2 linked regions of the Homo sapiens genome follow. The protein of the gene in region 1 binds, or shares a complex with, the protein of each later gene. Links are inferred from orthologs where the notes say so. Each region holds a gene or a part of one and is shown in the gene's direction. Other genes may lie near its edges.

Region 1 (7,411 bases):
GGTGTGGTGGCTCACACCTGTTATCCTAGCACTTTGGGAGGCTGAGGGGGGTGGATTGCCTGAGCTCAGGAGCTCAAGACCAGCCTGGGCAACATGGTGAAACCCCATCTCTACTAAAATACGAAAAAATCAGCCTGGCATGGTGGTGTGAGCCTGTAGTCCCAGCTACTCAGGAGGCCGAGGTTTAATTGCGAGAACCCAGGAGGTGGAGGTTGCAGTGAGCCAAGATCATGCCACTGCGCTCCAGTCTGGGCGACAAAGTGAAACTCTGTCTCAAAAACAAACAAACAAAAACTACTAGAGGCCAGGCGTGGTGGCTCACGCCTGTAATCCCAGCACTTTGGGAGGCCGAGGCAGGTGGATCACCTGAGGTCAGGAGTTTGAGACCAGCCTGACCAACATGGAGAAACCCCATCTCTACTGAAAATATAAAAGTAGCGGGGCATGGTGGCACATGCCTGTAATCCCAGCTACTCAGGAGGCTGAGGCAGGAGAATCGCTTGAATCCAGGAGGCAGAGGTTGCAGTGAGCCAAGATCGTGCCATTGCACTCCAGCCTGGGCAATAAAAGCGAAACTCTGTCTAAAAAAATAAAAATAAAACATTACTAGAACAATGAAATAAAAATAGATGCGTAATGATTTTGTTCATTATTAGATTCAACAGATAGACTTACTTTCTCAAATTGCTGCAAGTTTCTAAGTGCCTAGGCTGAATTTCTGTACTTATTGCACAGCACTGGTCTAAGGATCAGACTCTGAGAAGTATTAGTCTATATTAGAGCATGTACCATGTTTAGAGATGAGTGCCTGCAGGGTGACAGCCTTCTCATGGTCCCTTCATATTCTCCAGTATGCAGGGGGCTTTGCATCCAGCACACTCTGTCTGTGCATTTAAATGGGAACCAAACAGTACACTATGAGCAGAAGCATAGCCTTGTGAAAATAACTCAGGCCCTAACGTCAGGCAATGTAACTTTAGAGACTCTACTGCTCCCCAGCTCTGTGGCTACTGGCAAGTCATTTAACTCCTCTGGGTCTCAGCTTTCTCATCTGTGAAATGTGGATAAGAGCATGCAGCTCGGATTGGGAGGAATAGTGACACATACTGGTAAAGCATTCAGCACAACAATGGCTATTACTACTATTGCCATTTCAACTACAAACATAGTCAAATACTAAAAATCTCAGAAACAATCTACAATCTATATTCCTTTGGCAAGCTTATACTGTAAAGGGCTAGAACATAAATATATTCAGTTTTGTAGGTCCTAAGATCTGTGTTGCAACTACTCCATTCTACCGTTGTAGCGTGAAAGCAACCATATGCAATATGCAGAGGATTATAGGTGGCTGTGTTCTAAGAAAACTATTTATGTGTAATCTTGGCACTTTGGCAGCCAAAGTGGGCAGATTACTTGAGGCCAGGAGTTCAAGACCAACCCTGGCAACAAGGCAAGATCTTGTCTTTAGAAAAAAAAAAATTATTCAGGCATGGTGGCACTCGCCTGTAGTCCCAGCTACTTAGCTACTCAGGAGGCCGACATGGGACGACTGCTTCAGCTCAGGAGTTCAAGGCTGCTGTGAGCTATGATTGCACCACTGCACTCCAGCCTGGGTGACAGAGCAAGACTGTGTCTAAAAAAACAAAACAAAACAAAAAAAACAAAAACCAACCCCACAAAACTTTATTTATGGACACTGACACAGGAAACTTACAACATTTTCAAATGTCATAAAATATTATTCTTTTGATTTTTTTTCATTCATTTAAAAATGTAAAAACCATTTTTAGGTGGCAGGCCATAGAAAAACTGGCAGCAAATTGTGCCGATTCTTAGTAAAAAGAATTTTAAAAAGAAAAAGAAAAACAGGCAGCAGGCCAGATTTGATCCTCTGCCCTTAGTTTGCCAACTCCTGCTCTAAACCCTTTCTACCTCAGTTCAGTTAAAAATACCTATTGCATATGATAACCCTGAGTGTACAGAGTAGGAAAGAAGGTAGAAGAAGTTGAATCTGCCATGTGTTAAGGATTTTTGTTTTGTTTTGTTTTTAAACTTCGTTCTGCAATAATTTCAGGCTTAGAAACAAAAAGTTGAAAAAAAGAGTAAAAATAATTCCTTCATTGATTTTCCAAATGTTAACATTTTACCACATTTGCTTTTCTTTCTCACGTTCTTTTCATGCCTGGAATACCATTTCTCTCCCTCTCTCTCTCTCTCTTTCTCTCTCTCTCCATTTTTTTTTGTGAACTGTTTGAGAATCAGTTGCAAAGATGATGCCCTTTTGTTTCCTAAAAAACAAGGATGTTCTTTTATATAACCATTACCAAAATTACCATTACCGTTACCCAAATCAATACACTAATACAAAACTATTATTTAATATTTAGACCGTGTACCATTATCAAAATCAGAAAGTTAACATTGATGCGGCCGGGCACAGTGGCTCATGCCTGTAATCCCAGCACTTTGGGAGGCCGAGGTGGGCAAATCACTTGAGGTCAAGAGCTCCAGACCAGCCTGGCTAACATGGTGATACCCCATCTCTACTAAAAATACAAAAATTAGCCAAGCCTAGTGGTGGGTGCCTGTAATCCCAGCTACTTTGGAGGCTGAGGTGGGAGAATCACTTGAACCTGGGAGGCGGAGGTTGCAGTGAGCCGAGATTGTGCCACTGCACTCCAGCCTGGGTGACAGAGTGAGACTCTGTCCCCCCACCCCCCCAAAAAGGAAATTAACATTGATGCATGGTACTAATCTAACCTACAAGTCTAATTCTGATTTCATCAACTGTCCCACTAACATCCTGTATATACCAAGCTTCTTATCGTCATCATCTCTGGTAATTTCCCCAATTATCCAGTGAATTTGATATTATTAGCCCTGCTTTACCAACAAAGAAACTAAGCTCAGAGAGGTTAAGTAATTTGCCCACAGTTACACAGACAGTAAGTGGCAGAGCTGGAATTCCAACTCAAGTGTACTTCCTCCAGAGCCCTTGTTCTTTAATACTGAACTAGAATTGCAGAGCTTGGAAAGGACTTCACAGTGCAAGGACACGGAATTGGTACTACAGGCATGAAAAGAAGCCAGGCACGGTGGCTCATGTCTGTAATTCCAGCATTTTGGGAGTTCCAGGCAGGTAGATTGCTTGATCCCAGAACTTCAAGACCTGCCTGGGAAACGTGGTGAGACCCTGTCTCTACAAAAAATACAAAAATTAGCCGGGTGTGGTGGCGCACGCCTGTAGTCCCAGCCACTTGGTAGGCTGAGACGGGAGAATTGCTTGAGCCCAGGAGGCCAAAGCTGCAGTAAGCCGTGATTGCGCCCCACTCCAGCCTGGGTGACAGAGTGAGACCCTGTCTCAAAAAACACAAAAACAAAACAAAAAAACAACCCCCCAAACCAAAAAACAAAAACCTAAGAAAAGCCAGTAACTGATACTTTCTCAATCTCTCAATGAAATGTCCTTTCTGATACTTTCTCAATCTCTCAAGGACATGTCCGGTAGGAAAGGAGAAAGGAGTGAACAAATAGAATTTTGGCTACTTTGTTATACAATGTAAAAAGGCTTTTTGGAACACCAAGGCATAAACTAAGGTTATTTTAAAAAAGAAAATTTTTTTTTGATACGGAATTTCGCTCTTATTGCCCAGGCTGGAGCGCAATGGCTCGATCTCGGTTTACTGCAACCTCCACCTCCCGGGTTCAAGCGATTCTCCTGTCTCAGCCTCCTCAGTAGCTGGGATTACAGGCGCCTGCCACCACGCCCGGCTAATTTTTGTATTTTTAGTAGAGACGGGGTTTCATCATACTGGTCAGGCTGGTCTGGAACTCCTGACCTCAGGCGATCCGCCCGCCTCGGCCTCCCAAAGTGCTGGGATTACAGGCGTGAGCAGGATTTTCATTCTAACAAGTTCCAGGTGAGTTGATACAGTGGCTCCAGGGACCGACCACATTTTGCTAACCCCCGGCTTAGAGTTATTCAAAGAGCCCGTATATGAGACGCGGATTCCATCTAGGGCGTTTAGGTTTAATGATTAACAATTTCCCTCTTCTGCTCTCTCAAGGCAGCCAGGGAACAGGGAGACCATGATTCATGTCCAATCCCCGAGGCGCGTTATCAAGCTGCTGAAAGCAGGCCCTCCGGACTGCAGTTCCAAAGGGTCCCTTCCCAGGGAAGACGCCTGCAAAACCCAGATAGTACTATCCTGGAGTCACGCGGCGGCGCGCAGCCTCCTAGCCGCCCCCACCCGCCCGGCTCGGCCACAGCGGGGCGGGGCGCGGGGCTGAGCAGGCGCGAGGGCTGGCTGCTGGGCCGACGAGGGGCGGTGCCAGGCCGTGGGTCCTTAGTCAAGTGACGCGAAGCGGCCGGCCTGGGCGCCGACTGCAGAGCCGGGAGGCTGGTGGTCATGCCGGGGTTCCTGGTTCGCATCCTCCCTCTGTTGCTGGTTCTGCTGCTTCTGGGCCCTACGCGCGGCTTGCGCGTAAGTCTGCGGGACCCGGGTACGGGGAGGCATTGCTAGGGGACAGGCTGGCGGGGAACCGGGCTGGGGTCGCAGCCACCCGCGGTCCCGCAGGGCGGGGAGCCTGAGCCCCGAAGTGCCCCCCAGCAGGCTCGCGGCCGGCGGAACGCAGGCAGTGGACCGGCCTTCCCGTCGGGGGCGGGCCGGGCGGGGCGCGCGTCCTTCCAGGCAGCTCGGTCGCTTGTGCGTTCCGCTCCGGCCGCCCTTTGCGCTTGGATCCACTTCCCCATCTGTAACGAGGTGTTGAGACGAGGTGCGTGTAAACATTTCCTAAGTTGGCTTTCCGGGAGGGGATTCCAAGTTGCGCGGGTTAGAGGGTGCCTCCGGCTCTGGTTTGGGGCGCCCTCGCTTTCCCAGTTGGTGCTCTGCGGAGCGCTCCGGAAGGAGAAAAATGGGGTCAGGAGAGGCCCTTGCAGTGGGAACATTGGGTTATTTCCCCTCTGGGTGCTCTCCCTCTTCGTGCATCTTGTTCCTTTCTCACCACTCCCCGTCGCCTGCCCTTTGGCTTGGGTTTTTCTTTGTATTTGTGGGACCGTTTTCCTTCGGCGTTTGGGGGTCCAGGTTGAGGGGGGGAATAGGCAGGCTGCCGGGGGATGCCATCGTTGATCGGGGCAGGGCTGGCGAGGCGAATAGGTGAGGTGCGGGGCGTGCACAGTTGGTGGGAGAGGAAGGACAGCTTCACTCGCTGCGTCCGAGCTGAGGCGACTGGCTGAGGGGCTCCAAAGCGCTGCCTGGGGAGGTTTGCATCACACCTGCGGAAAGGAGAGTGGGTAGTTGCAAGCTGCTCCTCTGCACGTTCCGCGGACCAACTTTGGTTCCTCCAGGGTGTAGGTGGGCTGAGCCTGCAGTATGCTTTAAGTAAGAGCTGGTAGCATTTGACACCGTTGACTTGTAAGTTACACCCTTTAATAACGCTTTCAATAACGTGCCTAGGGCAGAGAAAAGTGGTACATTTATCTACAACCAAGATTGAACATCTTAAGTATTTGGAAAACAGCTGCTGAAAATGTTTTCATTTTGGGAAAAAGTCAGCACAGATTATTTGCTGCTCCCTCTTCACCCCGTCTGTGGTTCCCCTACCCCAGTATGTAGACAGAGTTTTCTTGTCCAGAAGGCCCGTAGGACCTTAGGAGTCAGAGCTAGCCAGCTGTGAGAACCACTGGGGAAGGTGGAACTGGGGCACAGTTCAGGAGAACAGTGGCAGGGTAAGGGGCTAGGGGAAAGGCAGATCTTAACCAGTATCTGGGAGTGGGGGTAGGGAGAGAGAGAAGGATTTATGAACCAGGAACAGGTGGACAGGGTCAATCTGTCTGATGTGAGCTCATCAGTCTTGTGCAGCGTCATTGGGTCAGGGTGGATGCCCTGTGGCTGCCATACCTGAGGCCCACACAGGGAGGCTGGCATCACCCCAGGAATTCTCATTTCAGGTGCCTAGGTGTCCCTCTTGGGCTTCTGTGCCCACAGCTAAAGAAAGATACCAGCAGTCTAGCTTTCCATTATCTCCTTGTTTACATTTCTTTAGGGTTCACGCCATTCTCCTGCCTCAGCCTCCCGAGTAGCTGGGACTACAGGCGCCCGCCATCACACCCGACTAATTTTTTTCTTTTTTTGTATTTTTAGTAGAGACGGGGTTTCACCATGTTAGCCAGGATGGTCTCGATCTCCTGACCTCGTGACCCAGCGGTTCTCAAATTTTAACTAAATTTTAGCTGTCCTAGAAATTAAGAGAATATTCCTTTTTTTTTTTTTTTTTTTTTTTTTGAGACAGAGTCTCGCTCTTTTGCCCAGGCTGGAGTGCAGTGGCACGATCTTGGCTCACTACAACTTCCACCTCCCAGGTTCAAGTGATTCTCCTGCCTCAGCCTCCCGAGTAGCTGGGATTACATGCATCCACCACCATGCCTGGCTAATTTTTGAATTTTTAGTAGAGACAGGGTTTTACCATGTTGGCCAGGCTGGTCTTGAACTCCTGACCTCAGGTAATCTGCCTGCCTCGGCCTCCCAAAGTGCTGGAATTATAGGCGTCAGCCACTGTGCCCAGCCCTAGAGAATATTTTAAACTATTTGTTAAGAAATACTACATCATTACACGTTAATAAACAATATATATATTTGAAAAACAATAGTATTTCTCCCCAAATTTTAGGGTGAAGAGTTGCACTGTTTTACATTTCTGCAAATCTCTTTCAATGTCTCTTAATAGAAGACAGTCAAATTTTCATGTTTATTTCTGCATTAAATCTGTTGCCATATCACATGTCACATAGCCTCTGGAAGACTCCACCCCCTCAGGACAGAGTGAGAATGGAAAAGGCAGTAATGGCTTGGAATTATAATAAAAATAGTTTTGACTAATTGGACCCCTGAAGGGCTCTCTCCAGACCACACTTTGAATACCGCTGATTTGGAATGTTTTTATAAAACAAGTACATGCTTACTGTAGAGAAACTTTAAACGTATAGAACATGTGGTAAGAAAATGAAAACTGCCCATCATGTCACAATGCTGTGAGTTTCTTTTTGAATAATAAAGTATAGCTAGCAACTGACTGGTATTTGAGTAGCTTGGATTCAAGGTGGGTTGGGCAGATGTAAGTGGCCTTTGAGTTTTGAATGGGTACAAGGACACTCTAATATCCCACAAAGCTGATGCTGGTTCCTGGTTGCAGGCGGAGTTGACCTGGAAACCTCTCCTTGGCCACTGTCCTTTCTAAGGAACTCATTTCCAGAGTCCACCAGCACAGAACTGGTGGGGGAGCCTACTAGGAGCAGAGAAAATGGCCATCTTCAGGCAGCTGTCCCTAGGCGCGAAGGCCACCCTGGCTGCTGTCACTGTCTTCGTGTCCATGATCGCCTCCCGCTCGTATCTGGCAGAGAGCCTTGAGC
Region 2 (7,740 bases), on another chromosome or scaffold:
CTGCTCCCACCGCGCCCCCTCCACAGCACCCTCTGGCTCCGGATGGGCCATCATGAAAGCTTGAGCGGCCCAGATCAGGTCCTCTTCCCGAACTCCTGGGACGGGCACGGTGGGGATGCCAGCGATCATCATGGCGAGGGTGAGGATGCAGATATCAGGCTGGGAGCTGGCCTCCTTCCCCACTGCCTCAGAGGGTACCGGTAGAACCCGTGGTGACAGCCCACACAGCATCAGGGGCCTAGGCCTGCTGGGGCCACCCAGGTCAGGGGCTCTGCTTCTGGAGTAGCCATTGTCCCAGCCCAAGCTCTCCAGCTGCCTCACATGCGGGAATTTGTGGCAGTTTCGGCTGTATTCCTTCCGTAGTGTCTCCCAGCTAGTCCCCCCAGGGCAGCCCCTGGCTTGTGGCATTGCCAGGGCTGGGCCCCAGGCCTGGGCAGCAGGTGCCACCTGCTCAGCTTTCTGGCTCAGTGGGCCTGTTCCACCAGAGGCCACCACCACTGGCTCTACAGGACTACAGAGGCCAAGGGACAAGCCTGGAGAAGCAGCCCCACCTGCAGAGACAGGAATGAAATGGAACGTTATTCTCAGTTCTTTGAGGAGGGGGCCCTGAGGGGCAGGGCATGGGAGCAGAGCTTGGGGGCGTAACTAAGACCAGCCCCAGCGGACTGTCTAGAGGTTGGGAACTAGGTGTTACTCATATCCACACTCCCAGTCCCCAACACGGAGTAGGTGATGGAGAAGCGTTTGTTGAATTAATGAATAGTGAGCAAGCGGGTAGTTATTGATTGGCAAGGATGTTTGGAATGGCTTTTCTTCTAAAAGAATTGATTCTAGGGCCAGCCCCCAAATGCCCAGCAGAACCGCCACCTCCCCAGAGCCAGAAAGCAACTTCTCAGGGGAAGCTGCCGCACTCCCTCCAATTGCAGGTGCCCCCCGCTCACCTTGGCCGGAAGGCAGAGGACCTGGATGAGTTTGTGGAGTCCTGAAGTAGGACATGGCTTCCCCAAAGCCCCGGTTTGTGAGGGAATAGTGATCTGCCGCCTGTCCTCCCTTCTTCACCCTTCTAGAATGTCACCTCATAGACCCTCCCCTTCACACTTGGAATCCACTTTACAGCGTTGACCTATTCATTCTAGAACCTGGACATGACAATAGGATGAGGTTAAAAGAGCACCAGACCAGGAGCTGGGTGTTCTAGGTTCTTGCCCTAACCTTGAACGAGTCACCCAGATAGTTTTGTTCCTTGATATCCTTATCTGTAAAGTGTGTCTGATGACTGCCCACTACCTCATTAGGAGTTTTGAGGATGAAATGAGATCATTTGTATGGAAGCAGATGACCAGAGATGGAAACACAGGAGCCAAGTGCTTCGTGCCTTGTAGAGTAAGACTTCGGGTCAGACCCAGTATTGGTATTTTTCTTTTTCTTTTTTTGAGACAGAGTCTCACTTTGTCGCCATGACTGGAAGGCTGGAGTGCAGGAGCAAGACCTCAGCTCACTGCAACCTCTGCCTCCTGGGTTCATGCAATTCTCCTGCCTCAGCCTCCCGAGTAGCTGGGACTACAGGAACCTGCCACCACACCTGGCTAACTTTTGTATTTTTAGTAGAGACAGGGTTTCACCATGTTGGCCAGGCTGGTCTCAAACTCCTGACCTCAAGTGATCTGCCCACCTCGGCCTCCCAAAGTGCTGGGATTACAGGCCAGGTATTGGTATTTTTCAAAATTCCTCAAGTGATTATAATATATGACAAAGTTGGAACCTTTTTTCTAGGGACATACTTCTCAACCCTGGCTGTACATGAGAATCTCTTGAGAAGCTTTTACAAAACACAATGTCTAGGCCTAATTTCCCAACAAATCAAATACGAATCCCTAGGGATGGGATGTGGGACACCAGCACTCTTTACATATCCTAAGATGACTCTAACAAGCAGCCAGCCTAGGGACCCCTGCTCTTTTGCTCCGACCTGCTGACCTGCAGTGATTCTAAACGAAGTGACTCTCATAGGCTGTAGGGGCAAGGAGACCTTCCAGTGATCAAGATGTCAGCATCGGCTGTTTATTTCTGGTCTTGGCTGGCAGCAATGTGGCCAACTTCGGACCAGCCAGCCACAGGTCTGGGGCTCCAGGATGCAGCTGTGCTCTGGTGCACTGTGGGTCTTCACTCATACTTGCAGAAATCCTTAAGTTCTTTGGGCAGGTGGAGCCCATCAATGGCCAGCCGGTGCACCATGCTCCTTTGTATCACTAGGCGGCACAGAGTCTGCAGGGATGGCACTGTGGGAAGAAGACTGTGAAAGGCAAACTGAACTGGAGGGTGGGTCTGAGGCCAAGATCCAGAAGGTCTAGGTCATGGTCCCCACTTTGTCATTAAATGTGGGCAAGTCCTTACTGCTCTCTGGGCCCAGCCTGCTTCATGGGGCTGAGAGAAGCACCTCTTCCTGAGAGCTGCCACAAAGCTGCAGCCCTGTTTATATCATAACACTTAGCACAATCCCTTCCCCATTCACTTAGCAGCTTCTGGGGGCAGGGGTAGTGTCTGATTTGCCTGTGCAACTGAAGCCTCCAGCACAGGCCTGGCACAAAGAGGGTTCTGGTGCATTGAGTTCATGAAATGTGATGAGAGGTATAACTGCAATGCTTACCAGGGCTATAATGAATCATACTCAGCATTAAGAAGCTCTCAGTCTGGGGTTTGTTATGCCTCGAAGCCAATAGCCAATATGCCCAAGTCTATGAGCATGTTTCTTTCTTTTCTTTCTTTTTTTTTTTTTATTTAAAGAGAGAGGGTCTTGCTCTGTCACCCAGGCTGAAGTGCAGTGCTCAGTGAACTGCAGCCTTCAATTCTTGGGCTCAAGCGATCCTCCTGCCTTAGCCTCCCAAATAGCTGGGACTACAGGCATGCACCACCATGCCCAGATAATTATTTAATTTTTTGTACAGATGGGGTCTCACTTTGTTGCCCAGGCTTGAGCTAGCTAGCTTGCTTGCTTGCTTGCTTTCTCTCTCTTCCTCTCTCTCTCTCTTTCTTTTTTTTTTCAGAGTCTTGCTCTGTTGCCTAGGCTGGAGTGCACTGGTGAGATCTCGGCTCATTGCAACCTCCACCTCTCGGGTTCAAGTGACTCTCCTGCCTCAGCCTTCTGAATAGCTGGGATTATTGGCACATGCCACCACACCCAGCTACTTTTTGTATTTTTAGTAGAGACAGGCTTTCACCATGTTGGCCAGGCTGGTCTCGAACTCCTGGCCTCAAGTGATCTGCCTGCCTCCCCCTCCCAAAGTGCTGGGATTACAGGTGTGAGCCACTGTGCCCGGCCAAGCATGTTTCTAAGAAAAGGGCAAACAATTCTCAAAGAGGCCCCTAATATCTAAAATTGGTTTAGAATCCCTGCCCTAGGTGAATACAGGAAACACTATCAAAACTAAAAGGGAACTTGTAGGGCATCTTAATCAATCAACCAAGATAGGTACCAAGGCCCAAAACCATGTAGAGGCTTGTGCAAGATCACAAGCAGAGGTGCAATTTGAAGCTAGATTCTCCCACTCTTAAACTAGTGCCGGACAGACGAAGGCCTAGCACATGGGCTACGGAGCCCTAGTAGATTCCAGTCCCCACACTGAGCCAGGAGGGGTCGCTGCCCAGGGATACCTACAGCCATACTCGAGCTGGACAAGGCGCACGCTCTTTGTGGAAGCAAACACGTCCACCACCGCGTAGAGGGGCTGCGCAGCTGGCAGTCCCCGGGCGCTCGGGCCCATGTCCTCGCCGTTGATGATGATGTGCATGTCGGCCGTGCCATCGGGGCGCGGGCAAAAGAGGACACCCAGGCGGCTACGGCGCGCGGTCGGAGGCAGCACGTTCAGCTCATAGAGCTGGTCCAAGAGATGGCTGTAGAGCCCTGGCCGGCTGCGGCCCACCAGGCGGTCCCGGGGAATGCGAAACTGCTCAATGCGCAGATATGGTTCCACGAGGAGGGTTGGAGGTCGGCTGGGGGCCGCTGCCTCCGCCTCCGGGCGGCCCTCCCGGGGCACGCGGTTGTGGTGGCGCGTGATGGCGAAGACCCAGGTGTGGCCCAGGTTGACCAGATCGGGCAGAGAAAACTCGGGAACGGGGGCCAGACTGGCGGGGTCCAGCGCGGTCAGACCGAGACGCAGATGTCCGCACCAGCCCAGCTCTTTCTCCTCGATCTCGACCAGGAAGACCTGGCCCGGGGCCAGCGGCTCGCGGCTGAAGCACACGCCGTGGGCGAAGCTCTCCACGCGTGTGGCCCGCGTCCCAGAGGGGTCCACGCGGATGTTGGCACCGTGCACCCGATGGAAGCGGGTGGGAGGGGGCTCCGGGCGCTCGAGTCCCCAGAGTGCACCCGAATCCACGGGCTCGGAGGCAGCAGCCATCTCTCGGCCATAGGGCAGGCCAGCTGGCGCCGGGGGCTATTTTGGGCGGCGGGCAATGATGGTGACCGCAAGGCGACCTTGTAAGGCATTTCCCCCCTGACTCCCTTCCCCGAGCCTCTGCCCGGGGGTCCTAGCGCCGCTTTCTCAGCCATCCCGCCTACAACTTAGCCGTCCACAACAGGATCATCTGATCGCGTGCGCCCGGGCTACGATCTGCGAGGCCCGCGGACCTTGACCCGGCATTGACCGCCACCGCCCCCCAGGTCCGTAGGGACCAAAGAAGGGGCGGGAGGAAGACTGTCACGTGGCGCCGGAGTTCACGTGACTCGTACACATGACTTCCAGTCCCCGGGCGCCTCCTGGAGAGCAAGGACGCGGGGGAGCAGAGGTGAGCTGGCACCGGAGGCTGGAGGGGATCCCCGAGCCCGGGATCGGTGCGCGGCAGAGGAGGCTCGCGGGTGGGAGCTGGCGCTGGGGCCGGGGCTTCCCTCGCGGAGGCGCCGCCAGCAACTCCCCGGGGGCTGCTGCACGGAAGCGCTGAGGAGCGAGTCAACAGCCCCTCTGCTGCCTCCCGTAGATGATCCGAGCCGCGCCGCCGCCGCTGTTCCTGCTGCTGCTGCTGCTGCTGCTGCTAGTGTCCTGGGCGTCCCGAGGCGAGGCAGCCCCCGACCAGGACGAGATCCAGCGCCTCCCCGGGCTGGCCAAGCAGCCGTCTTTCCGCCAGTACTCCGGCTACCTCAAAGGCTCCGGCTCCAAGCACCTCCACTACTGGTCTGCCGCCCTGCCTTCTGGGCGGGATTGGGAGAAGAGATGACGGATGAGGGATGGGGGGTAGTTCTGCAGACCCCTGAGGATGCCTGGGAGCCGGGAGGGCTGGAAAGGGCCCCTCCAACTGCGCCAACCCTGCCCTGACCCCCCTCCCAGGTTTGTGGAGTCCCAGAAGGATCCCGAGAACAGCCCTGTGGTGCTTTGGCTCAATGGGGGTCCCGGCTGCAGCTCACTAGATGGGCTCCTCACAGAGCATGGCCCCTTCCTGGTGAGTGGACAGCAGGGGGAAAGCACAGTTCCCAAAGTAAAAGGCTGGGGAAAGCGAGAGAGGGGCTTTGTGATTTTCCAAAAAGTTTCCTTCCTTCTAAGCCTCGGGATTTTCCTCTATGCCATTGGCTTTGCTGCCTGTACCTCTCAGAGGTTTTACCCACATGTAAAGTGCCTCTCATGGTGGCCCTTTCCCTCCACCCAGCTGGCCCTTGGGACTTACTCAGCCATCTCTTTCCTCCTCAGGTCCAGCCAGATGGTGTCACCCTGGAGTACAACCCCTATTCTTGGAATCTGGTATAGCTGGAGCTGTGGGTGTGTCTGGGCACTTGGATGGGGTGGCATTTAGCTAATTTTTCCCTCCCCTCTAGATTGCCAATGTGTTATACCTGGAGTCCCCAGCTGGGGTGGGCTTCTCCTACTCCGATGACAAGTTTTATGCAACTAATGACACTGAGGTGAGTCTGGTGCCTGCCCATCTGCCCCAGGCTCCCCGGTCCTCCATCCATGGCATGATGCTGGGAGAGAGAGCATGGCCTTGGAGTCTACTTTTCGCTCTGTCATATGCTATTGTGGTATGGTGGCCAGTCACTTCCTCTTGCACAAATAGGGTGGGTTAATGTCATTATCTCTGAAGTTCTTTCCAGTTCAAATACCAAAGCTTCCTGATTCCCTCTGTCTTGCTCTGCCATCCCCAGGTCGCCCAGAGCAATTTTGAGGCCCTTCAAGATTTCTTCCGCCTCTTTCCGGAGTACAAGAACAACAAACTTTTCCTGACCGGGGAGAGCTATGCTGGCATCTACATCCCCACCCTGGCCGTGCTGGTCATGCAGGATCCCAGCATGAACCTTCAGGTGCAGGGTAGCTGCAGGAGGGAAGGGAGGTAGCTTGAGGCTGTGGCCTTACAGTTAGCAAGGTCAGACTGACTGGTCAATGTCCCCATCCAACCCAGCTTCCTGCATAACCTCCCCACCACCGGCTGCCCTAGGTCTGTCTGTGTGCCTCCCACACAGGAAACTCACCTGTCAGGCTGCCAGCTCTGTGTTTTGCATTGAGTGGCCTCTCATACCCACCGGCCTACATAAACCACCCTGGGTTTCAGCTTCCGGATTGCTGAAGGTCTGGGTGGTAGGGTGAGGGAGGCTCTTCCTTTTTGCCCTCCACATGAGCTGAGCACCCTGGGTGTTTCACAGGGGCTGGCTGTGGGCAATGGACTCTCCTCCTATGAGCAGAATGACAACTCCCTGGTCTACTTTGCCTACTACCATGGCCTTCTGGGGAACAGGTATGGGATAGGGCAGTTGGGCAATCTCTGGGGTGAGGCAGGTCACATGATCTCAGGTCTGTCCTCCAGGCACATGATATGACAGGCCCAGCCCAGGTTTATGAGCAGCAGGTGGGTTGCAGAAAGAACCTAGTGCTGAAAGGCCAAAGAATAGAGATCAGTTTTTCTTTCTTTCTTTTTTTTTTTTTTGAGACAGATTCTTACTTTGTCACCCAGGCTGGAGTGCAGTGGCACGATCTTAGCTCACTGCAACCTCCACCTCCCAGGTTCAAGCAATTCTCATGCCTCAGACTCCCAGGCAGCTGGGACTACAGGCGCGTACCACCACACCTGCCTAATTTTTTGTATTTTTAGTAGAGATGGGGTTTTGCTGTGTTGGCCAGGCTGGACTTGAACTCCTGGCCTCAAATGATCTTCCCAAAGTGCTGGGATTACAGGCATGAGCTACAGCGCCCAGCCAGAAATCAGATTTTAAAGGAACTAAGGAGGCCTGTCTGTATGACCCTGGGGCACCTCTTTGGGAGCTAGCTTAGATGACATACAGACCACACCCTGTGATATCTTTCCCAGTCTCCTAGGGTCAGGGAGGTTGGTGGGAGGTGGGGGGTATGCTCGCCTCCTCTGCCTTCCTCTTCCCACCAGCAGCTGATGCGCTTTTCACTCTCATCTCCTACAGGCTTTGGTCTTCTCTCCAGACCCACTGCTGCTCTCAAAACAAGTGTAACTTCTATGACAACAAAGACCTGGAATGCGTGACCAATGTGAGGTTCTGCCATCACTTTGCATGAGCTCTCCCATCCCTAATCCTGAGAACAGGACCACATTCCCTCCTTGGGGACTCCTTGTTCTCCGTCCCTCATTGCTTTCTTGCACCTTTAAGCAATTTAGTGTTCTCTGGGACATGTGTCTAAGTGTGTATTCCCACCACCACCTCCTATGGTGGCAAATCCCATAACCTCCGTGAGGAGAAAGGACTTCTTCACATTTATCAAACACCTGCAACGTGGCAGGCACTGTGCTGAA

The links.
Region 2: the proteins of GLB1 (region 1) and CTSA are in contact, whole or in part, in a cryo-EM structure (PDB 7KDV), measured with the Mus musculus proteins. The link is inferred for Homo sapiens from one-to-one orthologs. Residues at the interface, in NP_033882.1 of Mus musculus: Tyr198, Asp199, Arg202, His206, Leu229, Thr233, Leu234, Gln235, Asp236, Leu237, Lys258, Phe259, Glu260; in NP_001033581.1 of Mus musculus: Glu29, Asp31, Ala37, Lys38, Gln39, Pro40, Ser41, Phe42, Arg43, Tyr107.

The regions. Positions count from the first base shown.
Region 1 is NC_000003.12:33,094,087-33,101,497, reverse strand, and holds the start of GLB1 (beta-galactosidase isoform a preproprotein), read left to right. Parts: upstream 1-4,351; 5' UTR 4,352-4,412; coding exon 4,413-4,487; exon of another isoform or gene 4,488-4,779; intron 4,780-7,194; exon of another isoform or gene 7,195-7,302; coding exon of another isoform or gene 7,303-7,411. Other genes in the region: TMPPE (transmembrane protein with metallophosphoesterase domain), read left to right, coding at 7,303-7,411.
Region 2 is NC_000020.11:45,886,595-45,894,334, forward strand, and holds the start of CTSA (lysosomal protective protein isoform b preproprotein), read left to right. Parts: upstream 1-4,740; 5' UTR 4,741-4,785; exon of another isoform or gene 4,786-4,831; intron 4,832-4,974; coding exon 4,975-5,168; intron 5,169-5,321; coding exon 5,322-5,433; intron 5,434-5,678; coding exon 5,679-5,729; intron 5,730-5,803; coding exon 5,804-5,890; intron 5,891-6,130; coding exon 6,131-6,286; exon of another isoform or gene 6,287-6,293; intron 6,294-6,625; coding exon 6,626-6,717; intron 6,718-7,393; coding exon 7,394-7,478; intron 7,479-7,740. Other genes in the region: SPATA25 (spermatogenesis-associated protein 25), read right to left, coding at 1-551, 942-996; NEURL2 (neuralized-like protein 2), read right to left, coding at 2,164-2,279, 3,656-4,397. UniProt on the Homo sapiens protein: Protective protein appears to be essential for both the activity of beta-galactosidase and neuraminidase, it associates with these enzymes and exerts a protective function necessary for their stability and activity.